4 linked regions of the Homo sapiens genome follow. The protein of the gene in region 2 purifies or fractionates together with the protein of the main gene of each other region. This does not show direct contact. Each region holds a gene or a part of one and is shown on either strand. Other genes may lie near its edges. The genes, in order: ZMYND19, ARMC8, RMND5A and MKLN1.

What was found.
Region 1: the proteins of ARMC8 (region 2) and ZMYND19 purify together in Homo sapiens (affinity purification with mass spectrometry; 4 studies listed by BioGRID and IntAct, with this or other methods). This does not show direct contact.
Region 3: the proteins of ARMC8 (region 2) and RMND5A purify together in Homo sapiens (affinity purification with mass spectrometry; 7 studies listed by BioGRID and IntAct, with this or other methods). This does not show direct contact.
Region 4: the proteins of ARMC8 (region 2) and MKLN1 purify together in Homo sapiens (affinity purification with mass spectrometry; 4 studies listed by BioGRID and IntAct, with this or other methods). This does not show direct contact.

The regions. Positions count from the first base shown.
Region 1 is NC_000009.12:137,581,581-137,587,549, reverse strand, and holds the end of ZMYND19 (zinc finger MYND domain-containing protein 19), read left to right. Parts: intron 1-442; coding exon 443-583; intron 584-4,386; coding exon 4,387-4,567; intron 4,568-4,863; coding exon 4,864-5,007; 3' UTR 5,008-5,469; downstream 5,470-5,969. UniProt on the Homo sapiens protein: May be involved as a regulatory molecule in GPR24/MCH-R1 signaling.
Region 2 is NC_000003.12:138,239,293-138,246,329, reverse strand, and holds part of ARMC8 (armadillo repeat-containing protein 8), read right to left. Parts: intron 6,863-7,037; coding exon 6,802-6,862; intron 4,548-6,801; coding exon 4,347-4,547; intron 1,243-4,346; coding exon 1,147-1,242; coding exon of another isoform or gene 1,081-1,146; exon of another isoform or gene 1-1,080. UniProt on the Homo sapiens protein: Component of the CTLH E3 ubiquitin-protein ligase complex that selectively accepts ubiquitin from UBE2H and mediates ubiquitination and subsequent proteasomal degradation of the transcription factor HBP1.
Region 3 is NC_000002.12:86,772,275-86,778,562, reverse strand, and holds the end of RMND5A (E3 ubiquitin-protein transferase RMND5A), read right to left. Parts: intron 5,216-6,288; coding exon 5,152-5,215; 3' UTR 522-5,151; downstream 1-521.
Region 4 is NC_000007.14:131,491,855-131,497,148, reverse strand, and holds the end of MKLN1 (muskelin), read right to left. Parts: 3' UTR 517-5,294; downstream 1-516. UniProt on the Homo sapiens protein: Component of the CTLH E3 ubiquitin-protein ligase complex that selectively accepts ubiquitin from UBE2H and mediates ubiquitination and subsequent proteasomal degradation of the transcription factor HBP1.

The sequences.
Region 1 (5,969 bases), on a different chromosome or scaffold from region 2:
TGTATGTTGCACTTCAAACACCAAGTGGACTTTCTGCTGGGAGCTTGCCCAGGACCGGCAGCCTCTGGAGGGACGGTGGTTGCTCCCCTTGCTGGGTTTTGCCGAGCCCCCCCGGTGTGCATGGTAGGGACCACTCAGATGGGGAGCTGTCTCGAGGCCATCTGCTTAGGTGGTTTTGCGTTCCAGCTTTGGCTGTCTGTGCTCTGAAGTCCAGGGGCCGGGTCCTCCCTGTGTCCCTGTCCTGTTTGGGCCACAGATCAGGTGCTTGGGTTTCTCTCAGCAGCTTCCGCCTGAGGTACCCTCATCCAAAGGACCAGGGGCCCGATCAGATCACATGGCTGACATTTCTTCCTGGAAGGACTTTGGTACCTGACCAGAAATGTCTGTGAGGGTGGGAGGCAGCGATGCAGGGTTAGATGCAGGGTTTGCTGTCTGTTTCTAGGGAGCGGCACCGGGGGGGCGTGGCCCCGGGCTTCCAGGTGGTGCACCTCAACGCTGTGACCGTGGACAATCGCCTGGACAACCTGCAACTGGTGCCGTGGGGCTGGCGGCCCAAGGCTGAAGAGACCTCCAGCAAGCAGAGGTGGGTCTTCTCAGGGCCTGGCGATGCCAGCAGAGGCGCCTTTTGAGGAGGGCCACCGCCAAAGCTCTTGTTTCCAAGAGGGTCTCCTGTTCCTCCTCTGAGCCCTGATGCTTCTGTGTATTTTGGGAATTTCATTGTTTTTCCCCAAAGCGTGGAATCCTCCTTTTCTTCATGGGAGCGGGAAGGATCTTGATGGTGTGTGTTTTTGCATTGCTCCTCTTATAATTGGCTCTGGGAACCTCCCTTTAGCTGGCATGACAGTGGGGAGAAGGGCTGCCTGCTCCAGGGCAGGGCCAGCGTCGGGACTCGGTGTGAGCAGGGCTTCTGCCCCACACCCCTGGGAGGCATCAGCCTTCTCTCCTCACCTCAGGATTCCTTCCTTCTCTGCTCACCTCAGGATTCCTTCCTTCTCTCACCTCAGGATTCCTTCCTTCTCTCACCTCAGGATTCCTTCCTTCTCTCACCTCGGGATTCCTTCCTTCTCTCACCTCGGGATTCCTTCCTTCTCTCCTCACCTCGGGATTCCTTCCTTCTCTGCTCACGTCAGGATTCCTTCCTTCTCTCCTCACCTCAGGATTCCTTCCTTCTCTGCTCACCTCAGGATTCCTTCCTTCTCTGCTCACCTCAGGATTCCTTCCTTCTCTGCTCACCTCAGGATTCCTTCCTTCTCTGCTCACCTCAGGATTCCTTCCTTCTCTCCTCACCTCAGGATTCTTTTCTGTGCACACAGATGGGTCTTTTTGTTGTGTTCTTTTGCTAAACAGTTTTCCTTAAGCAAAGGTTTAAAGCGGAGAATGGTTCAGGGCTCAGCCCTCGGCCCCCGACCTGCCTGTGATCCTGAAAGCAGTGCTTTGCATGGGCTTCCCACCTGGGAGGGCGGTTCCTGCTGGCCCTAGAACCAGCCAGTCTGTGAACTTCATGGAGCCCTTGGGAAGAGCCAAGGGACCAGCAGGATAGGGGTTGGGAGCCCAGTTGAGCCAGGGAGTCCCCAGCCACACACGCTTCACTGACATGTTCCCCTGGCGCCCTGGGGCTTTTGGGCACGTCCTCAAGCCTCTGGGCAGCCTTTCCTGGTGCAGGCAGTGCGAACTGCCCTAGCAGATGGTTGTCAGCAACGCTGGTAAGGTTTAGTGTTTCGGGCTTGGTGATGGTTGGTGGCTGTGGGTAGAATCTTTGCAGTTGTCACCTCAGAGTCATGCCAGAGCCCTGGGCAGCCGAGGTGGAAACAGTGGGAGCACCTGACACACTGGTTGGTGATGTGGGGACAGTCCCCAGGCCTCCAAAATGCCACTCCCAAACTGCTGTTCCTGCCACCCTGGAGGGAGTCCTACAAATCCCCCCCCATCCCTTCCTCACTGGGCCTCTCAGGACGAAGGCAGAGCCTGAAGTGTCTTTCGTTCTTGTTGGGCTGGTGTTTTTTTTTCCCTGCTCTGTTTATTTCATTAAATTAATTAATTTTACGGATGGGTCTCACTATGTTGCCCAGGCTGTTCTTGAACTCCTGGCTTCAGGGAATCCTCTTGCCTCAGCATTTTTTTTTTTTTTTTTTTTTGAGACGGAGTCTGGCTCTGTTGCCTAGGCTGGAGTAGCGCGACCTTGGCTCGCTGTAGCTTCTGCCTGCCCAGTTCAAGCAATTCTGCCCCAGTCTTCCTAGTAGCTGGGGTTACAGGTGCCCACCACCACGCCTGGCTAATTTTTGTATTTTTAGTAGAGGTGGGATTTTGCCATGTTGGCCAGGCTGGTCTTGAACTCCTGACCTCAGGTGATCCGCCTGCCTCAGCCTCCCAAAGTGCTGGGATTACAGGCGTGAGCCACCACGCCTGGCCCCGCTTCAGCCTCTTGAGTAGCTGGGATTACGGGTGTGCACCACCACGCCCGGTCCTTGCTCTAATATTAGAGTTTTGACCTTCCTCATACTGCTTGTGAGTGAAGCCAGGCCTCTTACGATTGTTGAATGGGGTTTTTATTCTTTCGGGGATTATGTTAGTTGGAACTTTGGGTTGCAAGAAACAGAAACAAAGGTCAATTTGGCTGAAACAAAAATAGGGTACATTTTGGTATCCTGACTGAAATGTGGAGAGCCAGGGATGCTGCTGCCTCCAGCTCTGCGCCCCCACTCCCGGCTCCTCTCTGGGAGGCGGCATGGGCACTACCTAGCACTTGCGGACTGAAGCAGGCACCCTGTTCTAGTGGTGTCTGGGGAAGCCCTGGGATGAACTGTAGTTAGCTTGCTTAGAATCACTTTTCTACATGAAAAGGGAAGGGGAAGGGGAAGGCGTGCTTGGCAGGCAGAGCAGCATCTGTAGCATCTCCTCCTGCGTTGTCCCACATTGATACATGCTCAGTGTTGATGCTGGGATGGGCCCTTCCCAACTCCGCAAGTTCGCCCGCTGCTCACCACTCCACCTGGCAATGCCTTCTGTCCCTGCCATGGTGCGGGTCATTTCAGCCGGTTCTCAACAAGACTCAGGGTCCGGCCAGCCTGTGACTGAATGTTACCTTGAATCCTCTCAGCACCCTTTATAATCAGGAGAGGAGATAACTGCCGTTAAGAACAGCCGTTTGGAAAGGGGGTGTTGGGCTGATGCTCCTGGTCAGCCCATTCTCTGTGGGCACGGCAGGATGCCCATTCTCTGAGGGCACAGCAGGACGAGTTGCGCTGGGGCTGCTGCCTTACACAACCCCCTGCTACAGGAGGTGGGCCTGGGGTGGCTCAGGACTGATCAGGCTCAGCCATCTTTGGTTTGCCAACATGGGGTTTTAGAACCCAGCAGGTGTTGGGCCTCTTGTGCTGGGTCAGCACCCCAGGCCCCGAGCAGAAGTCAGAGCTGGCCAGTGTGGGCCTGACATCCTGTCTGGCTGGGTGCTGTGTGTCCGTCTGGATCCTGGTCTGTGGCCTCCTGTGATCCAGCTCTTTGTGGTGGGGTCACCCTGTCTTTGTTGACTGGCTGGGTGCTGTGCGTCCGTCTGGATCCCAGTCTGTGGCCTCCCTGTGGTCCGGCTCTTTGTGGTGGGGTCACCCTGTCTTTGTCAGGCCTGGGCTATTGCTTTGCTTTCCTGGCACTGTGTCAGCTCAGCCCCCACAAAAGGGGCCTCTTGGCAAAGGGGTGTTTTCCTGTTCTGTCTTCAGAAGCCAGCAGTGTCTGAAACTTGCCTCTGTCTGGTGGGACCTCACCAACATCTTCCCATGTCCTGATCCTTCCCCGTTTTAACCAAGTCTCCTCAGGGTCTGGCTTCGGAGAACGGGGTTGGTGGGGTGGTTTATGCAGCTTCTTTACTCCGTGATGCAGCAGGGCTGGGGCTGCCCACGCTTGCCTCTGAGCAGCCAGTGCACATGCCTTTGAGGCTCCGTTCTTGGTAGAACTCTCCCGTTGTAGGCATCTGGCCTACTCAAGCAGGAGGAGTTTTTAGACGGACGTAGGGCAGCTCCCGGTATGGAAGGGGAAGTGGACCGACGGGGCAGTAATGGGCACCTCTGCAGGTCAAGGGCAAGGAGAGGGGCCGCCTCGCTTTGCACAGGGGCCTGACCTGGGCCCTGTCTCCTGCCTACTGTGTGCCTGTCAGTCCCAGGTGCTGGGGAGAGGGTGATAGATGAGGCCATGCTTACGGGTTAGTGGGAAGATGAGACACAATATTTACTGTCAGGTGGTGAAAAGCACATGCAGCAGGGATGGGCCAAAGGAGACTCAAACTCGGGCTGGGTGTCCTGGGCAGGATGGCACTCTATGGAGTCATTGCATCGTCTGCTGTGTGCTGGCCCCGTTTGGCCAGAGTGCACTCAAGTGTCTGCTTCTTTCTTTAAGGGAGCAAAGCTTGTATTGGCTTGCAATTCAGCAGCTGCCTACAGACCCTATAGAAGAACAGTTTCCTGTCCTAAATGTGACCCGGTATTATAATGCCAACGGGGATGTAGTGGAAGAGGAGGAGAACTCTTGCACCTACTATGAGTGCCACTACCCTCCCTGCACAGTGATTGAGAAGCAGGTGGGTGTGCTGCAGTGCGGTCGCGTCCCTGGCACCTCTACCCTGTAGCCCAGCCTTGGTTTGGGATCTTGCCCTCCACCGCGGGGTCCCATTCCCCAGAGACCGCTTAGCACCTCTTGGGCTTTTCCACCAGAGTGGTCTCCCTTTGCCCTTGTGCTGGCCTGACCAGGGCCCAGGCCCTCCAGCCTTGGTACGTGGTGTTTTGCTGGGTCCGTCAGATTGTCCGTAAGACGCAGCCTTTGCCCCACACTGCGTCCCAGGCATGATGGTGAAGCCACAGGTGTTCTGTATTTCAGCTCCGGGAGTTCAACATCTGTGGGCGCTGCCAGGTGGCCCGGTACTGCGGCTCCCAGTGCCAGCAGAAGGACTGGCCTGCCCACAAGAAGCACTGTCGGGAGAGGAAGCGTCCCTTCCAGCATGAGCTTGAGCCAGAGCGATGACGGGCAGGGGAGCCACACATACTCACAGCCCCCGGGCTCTACCCTGGGCACAGCAGAGACAGACTGGTGGTTGAACCTGGAGGTGCCAAAAAAGCCAGCTGCGGGCCCAGGACAGCTGCCGTGAGACTCCCGATGTCACAGGCAGTCTGTGTGGTTACAGCGCCCCTCAGTGTTCATCTCCAGCAGAGACAACGGAGGAGGCTCCCACCAGGACGGTTCTCATTATTTATATGTTAATATGTTTGTAAACTCATGTACAGTTTTTTTTGGGGGGGAGGCAATGGGAAGGGTAGAAATTACAAATAGAATCATTTGCTGTAATCCTTAAATGGCAAACGGTCAGGCCACGTGACTAAAAACTGTCCTGTTGTCGAAGCTTCTCCCCTGGGCCGCCGGGAGCCCCGTGGAGCGCGGCCTGCACGGGAGTTGTGTCCACAAAGGCAAAGTAAAGGGGTGGAATCATCTGGCCTCTCGGACATTCTCTGCTCCGCCTCCCTCTTGTGCTGCTTAGGGTGAGGTCATTTTGAGTGGAGCCGAGTCCTTGTGGGTGAGGCAGGAGGACCCTTGTTCCTGGTGGGCCCTTCTGAGGAGCGGGTGAGCTCAGACCTTCCTGAGTCCAGCAGGGAGTATGAGTGAGACTCTGTCCTTGTCTTGCGGCAGGAGTGGTGGGGTTGCTAAGTCAGCTGCCCGCTGTTTTATGGGGAGTAGGATGCTCTCGCCCCTGACATTGGTTAGTTCTTGCCTGATTTATGCATGAAGTGGCTGGGAGCTCAGCAGTGAGCTTCTGCCCAGAAGAATCCACAGGGCATGTTCAGCAGGCCTGCTGCAGATGGTGGAGGGGGCTGGCCAGCCAGGGTGAGGTGAGGGTCTCACTTCTCCGTCCGTCTGCAGGGCTGTGGTTTCCAGGATAGCCCTCCCTCTCCTTGGGGAGCCCCAGGTGTCTGGGGCTGGTCAGCATCTTG
Region 2 (7,037 bases):
TACACTAAAAACACTTCAAGTCAAAGTATCTTGTTAACTGAAATAAAGTGAGGTACATGGAAACATTCAATTTATTAGTTGTGCTTTTTGCATTGATTTTAAATCAAAGCTACTCACACATCAAATCTTATTGCTATTACTTCAGTTTCTTCAAGAAATGGTTCCTTTTCAAGTTATTTCAACAAATGTAAGGTTGTTCCATACTCCTCTTTCTACAGGCCTGAAGAACTTCTCTGAATCATGGTAAACTCTAATACTTTGTGATTTCTCTCACAGTGCTCCTTAAAATACTAATGCAGATGGAGAGATTTAGTAAATCATCATGTTCAGTAAATAATGACTAATTTGCTCTTTCTGCTATGGCTCCTCAAGACAGAACATGTGGTTTTGCTCTCTGATGGTCTTGAAAGCCTTGTGTAGAATTTATTAGGTTATACATGTTTTTGAGTGGTAAGTTCCAGCTTTTTGGTTTGTGGAAGGAGCCAAGTCAGAGCTTACTTACCACTATACTCCTCATCTAGAAGTATTCTCATCAAGAACATGAGTTCAGTGTTAGACTAGGCTTTAGTAACATAAGGGTGCTATACCAGTGCATACATTTTCTGGGGAGCTGGAAAATTCAGATGACCACTCACTAAACATAAAATCATCATTCCACAAAGATTTTATTCACATTAAACTTGCACAGTAGCAAAAAAAATCAAAACATAAAACTAAGCCACATATCAAAGAACAATATACAATAGAGATTTGAATTTCTCAATAGCATTGGAAGGTATTTCCATAAATAACATTTACAATTCTAATGTTAGGACTTTCAAGGTGTCTGAAGCTTCACAGTGCTAGAATTGATTTTTATCAGAACACATGCAAAAATGTGCAACATAATAATTCATATTAATGACACAAAAAAAAAGCACGCCAGTTATTTGTCATTCCAGCACGGCCATGCCACTCTATGTTCTAAAAACAAACAAACAACCCCCCAAATCCGGGTCCCATTCATTCTTCAATTATGCCTTTAGTCACTCTGCTTTATTATATTCAAACAGTCACTGTTAGTGCTCTTCACCACGACTTTCAGGTTGACGTCACTCCCTGCCTGCTGGCTGTCAGGACTGGGGGACGCCCCTCTCCCAGACTCACCTTCTTCCGGATGTCTTCATCATTTGCTCCAAGAGAGGCATAGAGCTTGAATGCAGCCTGGCGGAGTTCGTGAGCATGTTTTAAATCATGATCAAGCTATGGGGAAAAAAAGGATATGTTCCAACTCAGTCCATAAATTCAACTTTCAATAACATTAACTGAGTTGAAGAAAAAAAAAGTTTACAACTTTTAGATTTTAGTGAATTTCCCAGTCATTAACTACATTTCCCAGTTATTTTTGGATTCTGTTCACATAGCACTGAGACTTTGCAGTGTTCGTATCAATGTGACCTAAAATGCACACAATATGCTTCCATTTAAAAGTGAACACTATATTTGACACTGATATATGAAAAACCATTGTGAATCTCTGACTCCGAAAAATTCAGTGTTCCTAAATGGTAGCTTTACTGGCACTAATGCTTGCTTGCAGCAGCTCTTTGAAATGTTCTCCTTCAAAAGAAGGCACACCTGGACTTCTCTAGCCCCAGACTACAGCTGATAACCTGAATGAAATCGCAACAATGTCTTTAGGAGGGTTCCCTTAATTTTCTGAAACATTAAGAGTAGTGCTGGCCTAATTTTGGCATTTAAAAAGCTTTTAGAGGCCGGGCGCGGTGGCTCACGCCTGTAATCCCAGCACTTTGGGAGGCCGAGGCAGATGGATCATGAGGTCAGGAGATCTAGACCATCCTGGCTAACACGATAAAACCCTGTCTCTACTAAAAATACAAAAAAATGAGCTGGGCGTGGTGGCAGGCGCCTGTAGTCCCAGCTACTTGGGAGGCTGAGGCGGGAGAATGGTGTGAACCCAGGAGGCAGAGGTTGTAGTGAGCCGAGATCGCGCCACTGCACTCTAGCCTGGGCAACAGAGCGAGACTACATCTCAAAAATAAATAAATAAATAAAAATAAATAAAATAAAAAGCTTTTAGAAACAGAGAACCCATTGTGAAAATGCTTAACAAACCGTATACTATGGTAACCATTATTATCTATTACAGTTATCTGAGATTTATGTTGGGTATGGGTTTTTTCAAGAACATTATCAAAATTATCAGCATGAAGCAATTAATGGTATCTTTAAACATGCATAACTAATTATCAACTCTTCTATAAACTTGATCACCAAACTACTGTAAAGATAAAACAGAAGCATATTTTCAGGATACTTTCAATGACTGACTATGACCAAGTAACTATACAAAGTCTACCAATAATATAAATAACCTCGTAACTAAAAGCCTTAATGTAATCATCCAAATGAATACCACTTTTCCCAAAGAAGTTACTTTGGAAAGGTTCACTCATCCAATGATGTAGGTGTTGTTCATAACATTCTGAGACCCTCTTTTGAAACTTCCTAAAGAGCTAACTGGTATTATTAGCTAGAAAACACTGACAGTGGTATAGCTTGATCAATGATGAGACTTTTAGTTGTCACTGACTGTGTGTGAAGATGGAGAAATTCAGTTGGGTAATATAACGTAGGTAACAAAAAATTCCACAGAAAGCAAAAGACAATATATATATTTTACATATATATATAATTTGGGGTGGCTCTGAAGGCAATTCTTAATAGTTCCAAAACTTCTGTTCAAAGCAGACACTGATGGATTATAGGAAGAACTTCCCAATACAGAATACTCACTTTGATAAGTTCTAAAAGTATCTACTCTTAAAGTCTTAACTACATTCTAGTCATAAATTAAGATATAATACTGACTTGAACTAACATATCATGAAAATCACAAATTTATTAACATGTGAAGATTTCTCTTTACGGGTCTAGTGTCTATACTTTTCGGGTCAGAAACCTTTGGATAATCCATCATCAAAAATAAAGATGACAAAACAAACTATTACTCAAGTTTGGTATTACGATGTCATTTTTAAGGATTATTGTTGTTACAGTTTTACTCTGATGGAAATGAAATGGAAAAACTAACAGAAGGGATAATCTACGTACTAGTTAAATGATTTGCATATGCATAGGCTACATGTTCTTAAAATTGTTTCCTTACTCTCATGGCCATCAAAACATTTTATTTGCCTTCCTGGGGTGGTCAACTCAGGGCGTTCATGAGGCAGTAGCTAAGGGTTGCTCATGTATCTTTGTATTGGTAAGATACAGTGTCAGTGTGAAAAAATGACCAGAAGGAAAACAGACAAGGCAACTGGTTAAATGTATGTAACCCATCACTTCTACTGGAAAAACACCACTACTGAAAGAAGAGCAGACACATAAGTTTAATACCCAGAGAGTAGAGTACATTACTAATACAAATACCAGTGAAGGTTATTTTAGGCCCTTCTTAAGACAGAGTAAAGATATACCCTTAATAGTTTGCTTTATTTTCAAAGTTAAAAGCCAAATGAACAACTGCCTACCAAATGAGGTTTTTTGAAACTCAAAAGCATGAGGGAGAGGTCAAAAGGAGAATAGTTACCATTGGAACCACTGGCATGAAAAATACAGTTACATTCATGAAACAGTACTGGCTACTAATTAAGAGGCAATGTTCTCTCTACCATGACCTCCTTGAATAAACTTTCTCTTACAGAATGTTCATCTCCTATGCTTAAAGAAATGGATAGGGCAAACAGGCTGAGATGCAACAAGTCAAAATAAATACCGATCTATTCTAAGGAACTTAGGTTTTCAGAAAAAGCACAATTTGGCCTTTTTGGTCCCAAATTCAAGATTAAATGATGCTTTAGCTGTCACTAGCAGGCCCAAAGCACAGTATGAAACTGGGAAAAAGAGAAGATAGGGAAAGGTAACAAAATAGACTGTGGTGGAAAGTAACATGGGACAACTTAGTCTCCTGTAACAAAAAGATTACTCCTGACCTAAAGAATGAGAATGTAACAACAGAGATGATTCCATGACCAAGAATAAGATTATACGGTTATGTCAATACCCAGCTTGGAGAATCCACTACTTTTGAGGTTTAGTTGGGGAGTTAGGATGCAATTTTCTTTATTGCTTATCTGCTCAGTAAAAACTTTCTGACAATAAACATTAAACAACTTGGATTCAAAAATTCACAAAGCAATATTATCTATGTTACCAAAGATAAAAGAACCTTTATTTAAAAGGGCTTTAAGCTGTAGTTATCAATTGGTTCAAAACTGTGAACAGTAAGAAAAACTTTAGAAAAATCTCCCTTGAGCTGCTAAAAAAGGAAAATAACATACCCTTTTAATATCAGTGATGGCACTCACTGAGCTGGGATACTTGAAATAATCAGCAAGCATGGCAATGAGGTGATCAGTTATGCTAGCGATTCTCTGTAGCTCAACATCTGGTTCAATCAGATAGGCAAGTGTCTCAGCTCCTTCAACTCTCTCCTCTAGTAATCTCTCCTTACTGCACATTCGAACCAAACAAGGTAATGTCTGAAAGGTAGTGAGATTAATTATTTGCTTTTTGGTAAAGGTAAAAGCTTAAGCATATAGTGACTGAATCAACTCAATAGCTTTTATCAGGAGTAATGTTTATGATCATATATTTCCTTTACTGACTTCTAGAGAATAAAAGATTTTTTTAAAATGCAAAAACAAGCAAAATTCAGTACACATTAATAATTTGTACTGGCACATTAAACTCTATTCGTACGTCAAAGTATATTAATACAAATTCTAATTAGGCTTTTGGGACCGATAAGACAAGTTTTATTGTACAACTTTGTAAAAGACATTTAAGAATCCCTAACAAATCATGTCTGATGGTTCTGCCCTATCTATCTATTTATTTACCTAAAAAAGACCCAGCAGTTTAATCAGGAATGATTTTGCCTTAGGAAAAGTATGCTATCTCTTCCTTAGTGAGTAATATCGTTTATTTTTTGGTTTGGGGAGTCATACCTACAGTTGCCAAAACAAAATACAGCTTTAAAACTGCAGTGATCTTACCATTACTCAGATTCCACCAGTTCTACTATAATGCAACTGAAATGTATCACAGTTGCTAGGTTTTCCCAGTAACTTGCTGGAATTAGCAGTGGTATCCATGAGTCCAATTTTACTTCTGAGGTCCCTCAAAAATCTTGGCAATGGTTTGGTAACTTATCTACATTAGGTTCTCAATAAAAATATTACAGACATTTACTATTTCTTTTTCTTTTTTTTTGAGACGGAGTCTCGCTCTGTCGCCCAGGCTGGAGTGCAATGGCACGATCTCGGCTCACTGCAACCTCTGCCTCCTGGATTCAAGCAATTCTCCTGCCTCAGCCTTCTGAGTAGCTGGAATTACAGGCACCCACCACCACTCCTGGCTAATTTTTTATTTTTAGTAGAGATGGGGATTCACCAGGTTGGCCAGGCTGGTCTCGAACGACATTTACTATTTCTAAGCCTGACGGATCCACTTGAAAGGACAATGTGGAAGTATAAATTGAAATGTTATCATTATAGAAAGTCTTCCTCAAATACTGCAGGCAACTGTGCTTTGCTCTTTTATATATAATAAGTTCCTATTATATCTTTTACCACAGAGCTTAGCACTTCATCGTTCACTACTAATTTCCTATTAGGCTAGTAGAAGCTTTATAATTCAACCCTAGGTTTCCAAGGGGAAGGCCCTATTCTTTTTTCCCTAACATTACTAGTTACTAATATTTATTGATACCATAAATTCATGAATTATGTAATCTAATGCTCATGACTACTATGTGAAGAATATACTACTAACATTTTACCAATGCAGAAAAAGAGGAAGGTTAGAGAAGTAAATAAATCAAGATAAATGCTATGGAAGTCCGTGGCACTCTATGAAGAGTTGTTTACTTAGGGAGTGTTCAGATCTCATTAAATTAATTCTCTTCCCCAAAGACTAAAGCAAATATTAGTCTTCTTTGTGCTCTTTTATCCTTGGGATCACCTTTTGAACAATGATAATGTGAGATCTCATATTTATAAAATGACACATCATCAATTTACTTATACTTAATTTTTTATAGCTAATAAGACATTTTAATGTATTTAATATATTGTTATCCTCACAATAACCCTGTGCATAGATGAGCAGGAATTATTGCTTCAATTTTCATAATCTGGAGTCCGAGGCATCAAAAGAATAAAGGATGTACAGTCAGAGGTGGGAGTGCTAAAACCAGAATCCAGGTTTTAGGACTTTTAGGGCTGGTCTTTTCTCCAGGTTTTTCTAAATTCAAGTTGTATATGACATATCACAATGACAATGCTTGTTTTCATGTGTTATCTACTTATTCTCTTTCATTATGCCTTTTGATTATCAGCTATGAGAATGATATAAAGTCTTTTTCTGCAAAAGTGGCAAATCGTCTGCCTCTAAAACTGTAGTACAAATTTAATGACAATCAAGAACGAAATATATTTTCTGTTTCACCTGAATTGTACACTTTTACAATTTCCACATCCTCCTAATTACCATAAAATGAAAGGCTGTGACAATGAAATAATTATTTCACGCTGACTTTCGAAACACATCTAAAATCAATTTTTAAAAACTATATGACATCCACTGAAAAGAAAGCATGGTCTTTCAATATTATTCTACGCCATGCACATATATCATAATGATAAATGTGTAAAATGAAATATGAGTATCAATACTGATATTTAACACATAACTGGATAATTTTCACATTTTAAAGATAATTAATTAGCTTACCTTTAATACAATACAGTTATCATCTGTCCGAATTGCTCCAGCTCTACACATGTAAGTTAAACTGGAATAAGACAGCAGAAAATAAGTTTTTGCTTGGAGTTTAAAGCTTTAAATGAAAAATTATTTGCCTTTAAGATTTTATTAAAAAATCGAAAACCAAATAATATCACTTATCTTGAGAGTGAAGATTTTGACAATTCGCTTTTCGGAGGTTCAGTCAATTTAATAGTCAAAGA
Region 3 (6,288 bases), on a different chromosome or scaffold from region 2:
ACTCGGGACTCAGCCAGGTGCAGTGGCTCACGCCTGTAATCCCAGCACTTTGGGAGGCTGAGGTGGGCAGATCACTTGAGGGTCAGGAGTTCGAGACCAGCCTGGCCAACATGGTGAAACACTGTCTACTAAAAATAAAAAAAAATTAGCTGGGCATGGTGGCACATGCCTGTAATCCCAGCTACCCGGGAGGCTGAGGCACGAGAATCGCTTGGACCCAGGAGGTGGAGGTTGCAGTGAGCCGAGATTGGGCTACTGCACTCCAGCCCAGGCAACAGAGTGAGAGTCTGTCTCAAAACAACAACAAAAAACAACTCGGGACACTGCTCAGTCACCTTCTCTTCTCACTGTTGGTGGCACAGAAACACAGTAAGATGGGGACAGATATTTTCTTAAATTCTTGACATGCAGACCCTTAGCAAATACAGACAGCAATTTTCTCTTCTCACAGTCAGCACCTCCCTACTCCCTCCCTCATACCTTTGTCACCTGGCACATTTATACAGACTGGTTCCACAAAACACTTTTTAAATGTGCATTTCTTTAATTTTTAAAAATATACACAGGAAAAGCCATGTGTTTTACATAGGAATACACACATTAACAAAGCATTTCTTATAGTTTTCCAAAACTCTATTATATCAGTCCGAAATTTATAAATTAAATATATCAGAATTCTTAAAGTTAAAATGAATTCCCTGAAACTACTGGATATGCTACTTTTTCCAAAATCAAATGAACAGAGGATATGGATGTGGTTTGTGTTAAATAAGGTTTATTGTTAGCTTTATTGCCTATAGTCTATAAGATGCAACTTTACTGTGCCTTTGCAAACAGGATACATTTCTTAAAAAATTGATCAAAATTTTCCATACATATAGCTCTATATGATAGATTACAGTGCAACACTATTCTCGTTACATAATTATAGAAATACTATAGAACCCAAGAGCACGGGGTAAGCAAAATAAATACAATCCTGAGCCATCTGAACAAGATGATTTGATGAATCCTTTAGTGTAAGTTTAGAAAACACAGAGAAGGAAAAAAATACATGCATACTGCAGTCATGAGCAAAATACATCAAACACCTGTTCCTTGCTAGGTGCAGGTGGGGGCAATGGTGAACTTCAGACACATGCACACTCACTCACACTCCCATTTTCTTCTGCTTCCCTCCCAGCCCCAACACATTCATTCCCGCCCCTTCCCAAAAAAAAGATCAGGCACTAAATCCTAGTGAACCCCACAACTGCCTTGCTGGAGAAGGTTAAGTGACTGCTAAAGTAAGAGTGTATGTAGGTCCTCACCCATAACATGAAACAAAGCATGTGCTGTAAGCCAATTCCAGCTGCTTTTGCCTCTTTGGAAGTAAATGAAGCATATGCCCACTACAGCTTGAAACTGCAGTGGAAATGTCTTGAAAACAAAATTTTGTTTCTCTTGCTATGTCTTGAAGTAAAATCAACAGTGGAAAATTCATCCTAAAACTGCCTCATCTGCTATTAAAATACATTTGTCATTCTATTTTTGGTATCTATTCAATTATAGTTCATTAAGAACGGTTCATGAAGCTTGTACCTGCTTATGGTAAACATCAGTGTACCACACAAAACCTGCCACACCTAGACAGGCTTATGAAACACCAAATCTTCTATGTGTTCCTTGCTAACATTCCCTCAAGACCACAGCATTCTAGTGTTACCAGAGATAAAGTACGTATAGTTAAGTGATGAAAGAAAGGTATTTGGTTTGTGTCGTCACCTTATACATCCTAGTGATGAAACTAACCAAACTATGCCTCCATGCCTTCCCTGAAAATAACCTGAGTCGGCTGACGAAACAGACTGAGCAGCGTGGCTCTCAGTCCACTTTATCAGAGGTTGAGCTGGAAAACCAGAGGGCTAATGTAGTCTACCAGCAGCTTGTGCGGATAACCAAGAGTTCTTGGCTGTTGCAGTATCCACTGTCCCAAAGGCTAAGCCACTGAGGTGGAAATCAATCGCAGCATAAAGAAGACTGAACTTAAGCTGCATAACCTGCGAGACTACCTGGAGAGGACAAAAGAGGATCAGGATCCTCATTTCCCACAAAATGTGGTGTGGGTTTTAGTGTCTCTATGCATTAGCTGCTACAGAGAAGTTAACATTTACTTCATAGCTTTCTTATTTTCAATTAAATGCTCACACTCAAAAAATACACACCCTATGAATATGAGGTGGCTCTTTTCTTCAAATTTTTTAAAATAAAGAGGCACCAATACCCGTTCATTTATGTATTAGAAGTCTCGTATAATCACCAATAAAACAGAAATAGCATCTGTGATCACACAACGGAGAAAAAAGATCAAGAGACAACCTTAGCCACTGTAAAACTGTACTTGAACACTCAGATGCTCTGGCTAAGTCAGAATCTAAAGATTTGCTAATAAGGTTTTATTGGTTTAGCATAGTCCCATGGCCTTTGTCTATAACTGATATGTGGAAACGGTTCCCAAGGAAATTTAAGAAACCATTCTGAAATTCTGCCTTTGATGTACATTATAATTAAATGTGACTGTTATAAACGTTGCCTCTATCATATTATCTTTTGTAAAGTGGAGGCAAAGAGAGACAAAAAGCATCCTCCTGGACTGCTGACATGCAGAAAGCATCAGCGATGATAGGGTTGTGACAGCATTTATGGAGTTTCTAGGGCAGGGGGGACAGAATGCTGTATCTCAGCATCTTTGGTTAAGGTCTGGCCTCTTTAAATCCACCTCTCCCTCACATTTAGTCTCTCATGAATTTTAAGTCCATGCACTTGAAGACGGTCACAAGATATAATTTCCATATAATATGTCAGATTCATAAGAGTTTCAGATTTTTGGTCCTCACCCTGCCCAGTGGGAGTACACGGGCCTTACACAGAAAGCTGCAGAGTCCAATGCTTCAGTTAAAGCATGTTCTTTTCAAAGTTTTCTTGAGCTGCACAAAAAACCGTCAACAGTTTTTTGGCTCCCAGCACTGGGAGAGGGATAAAGCTGAGCTCTGGCTTTTGTCCTTTAAAGTGGCCCAAGCCGACTGTATGAAGAGTCTGGTCATCAAACACATTTACCACCAGCCTTCAGAGTACATCTGTCTCATTCAAACCTTACAGGAAGCCTAAACGTTGTGTAGGTGTTTGGGTGGAAAGATAAGAATAAGCTAAACTTGGCCTAAGGAGAAAAAGGGTAAAAAAAAAAAAAAAAAAAAAGAAAGAAAGAAAAATACAACACTCTAGGTTTTAATTCAAAGGAAAAATATATATATAATAAACTGGTTTACACCCTTGGTCAGACTGTTGCCTGGAATTCTCTACCTTCTCTTTCACAGTCCAAAGAGTTTGTCTCTGTTCTCTTCCTTCACTGCTTTAGCAAAGAGAGGGGGAACTTCAAAGAGGATTCCAACAGTGAAGCAGAATCATGGGGCAAAAGTCGCTATGGGGCCAGACTGAGGTTGGACCACACAAGCACTCCAAGCTGGGCCAATCCCAACCGCTGGTGAAGCCGCACAGCACGGAGTAGCCATCCACATAGGCCTGGCCACATGGTACTCAAGCAGAGGTTTTCCACAGTACTCTTTCTCCTCACAAACAAACCCCAGCTCTCCCAGGTAAACATTTTAGAAAAAACATCCAGGCTGGTGTACTACTGTAAAACGCTGCCAGTTTCTAATTAACTTAGCACCAAATCTGTGATTCCCCCTCCCTCAAACCAAGTCCATCTGTAGTTTAAAATGTGAAGTGCCACATTTCTCTTTGCTTCTGTGTTTTCATTTTCTTTGAAAGTATTCCTATTGATGTTCACTCCATGTCAGAAGAAATAAAGTTGCAAAATATTTGGTGATTTCCGTGTAACGTTCTTCTTATACTGAAGTAACTTCATGGGTTTCGGTCAGAATTATGTCCACAGAAGTCTTTTCCATGTAGTTCGTCATACAGAAAGACTCTTACACATGGCTATTTTTGGACAGTGCATAAATGAAGATACCTCACAAGAGAAAAGATCATTATCTGTATCCATCAGAATAATATACAGATTCACAGTCAATGAGATGATACGCTTTGCAGAAGAGAGGCATCAAACATTATACTATTCAAACACAAAAACAGCAATAAACGTTCTGCACTACAGAAAATTTGCTAGCTTCTAACTTTAAGGATTTAAAGTGATGGGTCTGGTAACTGCATTTTAGAACTGGAACATGCTGCTTTCCTTCCAGATACACAATGTTTGATGCTGGTGCACATATACAATACACACATGCACAACACTGTGTCTGCAATGATATAATAGGGCTACCAAGACCAAGAGAGTAAATATCAACTTAAGAACACTTCTAACTTTAGAATTTCATTTTATTAAACATACTTTTAAAACAAGCACCTCTTGGCAATAAAAGCAAAAACAAAAAACAAACAAACAAAAACCCAACCAAACAATAGTACTCCTTCCACTCTATGCTAACGGAAGACTTCTCACACCAGCCAGTTAAACAATGAAATTCTTAAACACGCAGCCTGCTGGGGCTGCATGCAGAGCTAAAATGCAGGTGTGCTGACTTCTTGGAGCTGGAGCAGAGGAAAACATCAAAAAGCATATCTGGAATCTATCACAGCTTTCTTTCTTAAGCAAATAAAAATGCAAATTAGTTTCATAACCACAATTCAATTTATCAAACTTTTTCTGAAGAATTTTCATTTAATTATGTATACATAACAGGAAATAAAACTTTTTCACAAACACTCTCAAGGCTTACGATTATCAAGAAAATGACAAAAGTAAAAGCAGGAGGAATATTAAACACATGGCGGGGAGGTCAATTTCCGTTTCTGCTCTTAAAAAGTAAAAAAATCACCATATAATTAAGTACAAAAACCTGCATTGAATGACAACTGCTGGTGTATTTACTTGATCAGAAATGAAGACCAAGAATATAATAAAGCCCTATGATAATATTCACCGGGAGCACTCCCCTCAGTGTGTGTACACTAACAGGTTGGCAAAGTTTCTGGAGCATTAGCTTATAGAAACACAGGAGTCCTTGGTTAGCTGCATTATATGGAACGTTCTCTTCTGAAATGCACCCACGATTCAGTTTCACTTACAAATTGCAAACTAAAGTTATCTCTTCAGAAAAATATCTGTTTGGCATCTCCTGGACTTTGTTCCATTGGACAGTAGGGACATTTTAATCTAAAGACAAAGAAGAAAACACTGAGTGAAGGAGCAGGCTCAGTACTGTGTATTCAATTTTTATCTAGTTATAGAGTATCTTTAACAATTATACACACATATAAGAACACACAAAAACAAGTCTGTTTGTATTTTGCTTTGAGGATGAACTATGCTTTCCCTTAATATAACTGCCAAGATTTGAAGGGTCACAAATACATACCACCCATGCCAGATCCTAAATTGTTTCTTAAACAAAACAAAGGTAACTTTTCTGGAAATTGTTTTTGGGGTTTCGAAAATAAATTCAATTTCTCTTTCCCAAAGGTTTAGGTTGCAACAGTCTTTAAATGAATTTCAAATGTACTGGTCACACAATCCATTCAAGGGCAGCAAATCTGATGGCAGCTACAAGCCCACACCAAGAACGGCCCACATGCCTCACAGTGACACATGAAACCAGTACAGCCTGAACTAAGATCAACAATTTTGGCCAGGCAAGGTGGCTCACACCTGGGAGGCTGAGGTGGGTGGATGCTTGAGCTCAGGAGTTTGAGAACAGCCTGAGCGACATGGCGAAACCCTGTCTCTACTAAAAATACAAAAATCAGCCAAGTGTGGTGGTGTGCGTCTGTAATTCCAGCTACTCAGGAAGCTGAGGCATGAAAATTGCTTGAACCCAGGAGGCAGAGGTTGCAGTGAGCTGAGACAGCACCACTGCACTCCAGCCTGAATGATGGAGTGAGACTCAATCGCAAAAAAAAAAAAAGCTGAGCTCACTAACTAAAATAAATTACAAATGCATATATCCTTTGAACCAGCAATTTCAGTTCTAGGAATTTATGTATCAGGTATAGATAATTCACTTAGCACTATGTTTTTTTGTTTTGTTTTGTTTTTTGTTTTTGTTTTTTGAGATGGAGTCTTGCTCTGTCGCCCAGGCTGGAGTGCAGTGGCACAATCTCGGCTCCCTGCAAGCTCTGCCTCTCGGGTTCACGCCCTTCTCCTGCCTCAGCCTCCTGAGTAACTGGGACTACAGGTGTCCGCCACCACACCCGGCTAATTTTTTGTTTTTGTATTTTTAGTAGAGATGG
Region 4 (5,294 bases), on a different chromosome or scaffold from region 2:
TCAGCTTAGTTTTTTCAAGATTTGGCCCATAAAGTGTCTTTCCCCTTTAATGGGGACAGGGATCCAGAATTTTCCCAAACTGCAACACTTCTAGGTTCTCTCCCTTTACTATCTTTTCTACAGTGAATTTTCCATTTCAGTTCAGTCTTTCCTTCTAGTTCCAGCCTGTACAAGCATATCCCCTTTAAAGAGGAACATAAGTCCAAGTGGACAAAGCAAATAAAATAAGGGTGGTCATTAACAGTAGATAGAAGAACATTTCATGAAATAATTTACCAGTGGTCTTTAAATAAGTGGAAGCCTCCCCGCAGAAACTTTGTGAGCATGGCCGGTACTTGTTCATCTGAGCACCGTCTCAAAGGAAAACACCCAAAGGCCCTTCGAAAGCGTATCACTTTCCTTTTGGAAGCCTAAATAAAACTCACCTTTCTGGGGGAAAAAACACAACTGTAAAGTACAAAAACATTTTAAAAGTTCACTTCAAAAGTAGTTTGAGCAAATACAAGAGATATCTTGTAGCATCCATATATAACATTTTATTAAGAAAATGAACAAAATACATTCTTTCTCCATATGTACATTACATACAACATAATTCTACAATTGCCATTTTTAGCAGATCACTCATTTATTTATTCACAAAGTAGAATTAACACATTTACCAAAGCTGGGATCTGAAAATTATTTGTACTATAAGAAAAAAAAAATCCTAAAAAGTCCATACAGATTGGATAAAAGATAAGCCAGAGATCATGAGGGGAATGGGGAAGATTGCAGAACACGACAGAGCCCAACAATGATTTGAAACAATTGATGTCAGAAGAGATCTGATACCCATAAAGCACTTCTGTTTAAAAGCTCCAACCAGCTCATGCCAGCTTTCCAGAGTCCCATGATTTCCATTTAAGACCATGTGGATACTTTAGGATACGGCCCTGACCCCACATTGCCACAGAAGAGGGGGTAAGAGTAGAACCAAACAAGTTAGCGGTTTTCTCCACACATTGAGTCTCATCTGAAATACTACTGAGGTGCAAAATGTGTGAATCTCAGCTAATGTGCACAGAAATACAATTTTTTTTGAGAGACATTTGCTTAAACGTGGTAAAGAACTCTTGTTTTATGGACTCCTTGCTTCATGTTCATTTTGTCTGTTTTTCTTTTGGCTTTTGACAATAGCTCATCCTTTTTGAGTGTGAGTTTAATTATGGCCATATTAAAAAGTCCATCATAAACAAAGACTCCTCCTCATGGTATGAATATGCTCCATATGCCCATAATGGTGCATAACGGACTTAGAAATTCCAATGAGTCTTAGGGTTGAAATTTCCAATGACCTGAGCAAGGCAGCTCCCTATAGCTTCTGGATAACATTTTACACCCAGAGTTCAGGCTTAAACAGACCTATCAACACAATTATTTTCGGATTGTCTGTCTAGAAAACGGCAATGCTCAAAGGAATATAAATAAGGGTGGGGGGACATATGCTTCCAGCCTGGTCCTTTCTCCATGTGGTAAAAAACAATGGAATGGCTGTGTTAATTTTTTTTTTAATCTTTTCTGGCCTTTACTATGTTTGGTAATGGAAATAAGTCAGGGAAAACAAAATGAACAGGTCTCATCACTTAATTAATACTGGTTTTTCTTCTTTATACTTAGTAATTTCCTAGTTTTTTAAATGATAAACCTATTTTGACAATCACTAACATCAATACATTTTATCGTAAGTCCCATATAAGATATTTAACATTCTCCAACTTTCGGCTCAGCTGGTTACAGCACCACATTTCCAGTCCAGGAGATGTTTTCACAAACAGAAGGAGCGATTCACAGCATTAATAAGCAGACTTGGAAAGACAGATTTTATTGGCTATGGAGGAAGTTGTATCTTTCTTCTCAATCTAATTTTCAGTCCAATTTTGGTTTTGAGAATCTATCTCTATCAGAGGGGATCTTAATTTCTGACTACTGAGTACTTCCAATTTATAAAAGAGCTGACTTTTAAAAAATTCTAACATCTTTCCCAAACTGTTTAGAAATATGCCATATTTGAAAGACGGAATACTGTTTGTTCCCAAGACCAACACAAGAAAAGGAGGTCCTCATCTTCGCTTTCCTGTACTCTTCCTCTGAGGCTAATAACTCAACTGTACATAGCTTTTGGAGTGGGAGCAAGATAAGAATCTCTTTAAAAAGAGCATTTTAAAAATGTATGTGTATGTGTATGTATGTATATTTATAAAGTATGTACGCATAAAGGAATCTGTTCACAGGAAAATGTTACATTATTTTCAACTCTAAATTATGCAGAAGACTATACAAAGTAGTTAATTAATACTATACTATCTACTTTCTTTTCAAAAGACATTTCACACAAATCCAAAAAGTAAGCCGGCTTAAAGAATAAGACAATCATAACACCTCTTGCCCAGGCTAATTGTAATGCTTAGGAAAGGAAGTCCACTTTTATTTTTCTGAACGGATGATTTGTAAGTAAGGAAGAAAATTGTTTACAATTGATCAGTCACCAAAATAATTTTTTTTTCTGGGAAAGGAAAAAAAATCCCAAGAAAAAGATCAGTACATGACTCTTTAATAAATTTATCTTCCCCCACGGAAGACTACTCCTAAGTAACCTTTTGGACTTTGATATCTTATTAAATTTGGGAGTGAGTTGATAATTACTTGGTATTATTTATAACTTGGTATTATTTGAGGCAACACACTACAGCTGTCACTTGCAAACACCTGATGGCATGGCTCTAATGGTGTAGGATCCTCTCCTTTGTTGTAACTGAATTTATAAAGATTTATAAAGCTCTGCCAGTTGCAATGGGATTGGGATTTATTCTACACGCCTCCTCTAATTTAATCAATCACTTTACAGATGTGGAGGAAACCTAAATAAAAAACCAAAATTATGAAATACTTCTAATGCCAAACCCAGATCTCATTATTGCTTGGCAAAGCAGAATTAACAGAGACCCTTGGGATGACATATAATTAATTTAAGGCAAGGAAACTAGTATCAGTTCAATTCTGTGTTACAAGTTATACATGAAATGACAATTTTCCTCCTATGTTAAAGGGCTAGAAAATAAAACCAACCAAATGACATGAGCTAAACTGTAACAAAGGCTTTCTTGAGATTTGTTAACAACGGAGAAATAAAGCTCAAAATTGGCTTTTTGAGTGGCTCCTTATTCATGCACACAGGCTTGTTCAGTATATCACACAGTGTTTCTTCTTCCTGCCAATTAATTTGGCATTCATTAAGTAATGAATGAAACTGAAGAATGATGATCTCCTCAGGCTTTGTGTGGCAGACAGCTCAGATATCTGAGCTAACTGCTGTGACTGCTAGCATCCCAGATGGTACAGAGCTATGTTGCAGCAAGAGCTTAAACTCAGTGAATAAGCAAGGGAGCCCCCAAACTGCATGTTGAAATGTTTTATGGCTGGTTTTCCTGCTGGATCCTTAACAAGGAACTGGTTGTATGTAAGAAGCTGCTCACCTAGTTTAAGATCTAGAGCCCATTAACACTGGATTTTCTGTTTTAAGATCTCAAACAGTTATTTGGAAGAAGGGAAATGCTACTTCCCAAGAAATGCTACTTCCCAAAGACTATTCAGAATTACTGAATATTCTAGAAGCATGAGCTTTGAGGCCTTTTGGTAGTCTTCTTCCCAGCATCTCATTAACAAAATTATTTTAGGGTTAGAAATGAAGAAATTTATTTTTCCTTTCGATTTGTGGACCTCTAAAATCCATAAGCAAAAAGCTCCTATTTTTCCTTCTCTAACATACCCTCATTGTCTTCTCTAGCTCGTTCCTGAAGTTTAATACTTCCAAGTCAAAATGCCTTAGATAAGCAAAATAGGACTTTGCACACAAATGTTTAATAGTTCACTGAGGCTGTCTGAAAAGCAGATAAAAAGGAAGACATTATTTTATAATTAAAAGTGATACCTTAGAACTGGTCCAATTCCCTACCAAACATTTCCCCTTTTTTGCCATTGATCCTACAGCTTTCAGACAACATTCATGTTAAATTCTGTTTTCCAGCAAGCTCAGCAGTGTTTGGGGATAGACAGCACATTGCAAATCTTATTTCCAAATAATGATTCTAATTAAGAAGATAAACTAGGACTACCCTTTCATTTTTGTGTTTTTAAGCTGTTAAGTGGGATCCAGTTCACAATATAAAACTTTAGCCAAAAAGACAGTGATAATTTCCCCGATGGCATTTCTCTCTGCACCACTAGAGAAACTAATTTACTATAACCTCTAATGACTCCTTAGGTTAAGGGCTACAGAAGCTACCGTCAGATGATTTCATTGGCTATGACTGGCCTAAGAGTTAGTCATTTGGAATTGGAGCTAAATTCACATTCTTTTTTTTTTTTTTTTTTTGAGACAGGGTCTTGCTCTGTTGCCCAGGCTGGAGTGCAGTGTCGCAATCATAGCTCACTGCACCCCAAACTCCTGGGTTCAAGTGATCCTCCCACCTCAGCCTCCCAAGTAGCTGGGACTACAGGCACATACCACCACACCTGGCTAAAAAACAAAAATATTTTAAGTAGAGATGGAGTCTTCCTGTGTTGCCCAGGCTGGTCTGAAATTCCTGGGCTCAAGCAATCTTCCCGTGTCAGCCTCCCAAAGGTCTGGGATTACAGGCGTGAGTCACTATGCCCAGCCTAAATTCACATTCTTGAGGGGAAGAGACATATATAAGGCTGCATTATTTTTATTTAAGGAAAAAAAAAGAAAAAGAAAAGCAATCATTTCATGGCAACTGAAGCCACTTCTAATATTCAACTATTTCAGAAGTTTAAAGTCAATTCTTAACACAAATTCTAACTTCAGCAGAAATCAATGTTACTCATGGGAGGTAGGAATAGAAACAAAAAGGTTAAAAAATACAATAAAAAGAAAAGACAAAAGGTAAATGGAAATTCTGATGATATGCTGAATTCAGGAACTCTGCTATCAAACCTGTACTTTACCAATAGTTCTATGACAAGAGATCCTAATGCCAGAAAAAGAGGCCAACACAGGTTTCTCCATTAAAGCTGCCACAGCCATTATTACTATCCCCAAATGAAAATGACTCAAGTACATTTATAGCAATATCTGAATGTTATTAATTTCTTATGAATTTCATTATTCTCTTGTCATAAATAAGGATAATAGAGCATTTGCCCCAGAATGATTTTGATCTTTTTTTTTCCAAGCAATACAATGTCCTACAGAATGCCACAGAAAATCTAGGAAGTCTAGGGCTAAAAAAAAG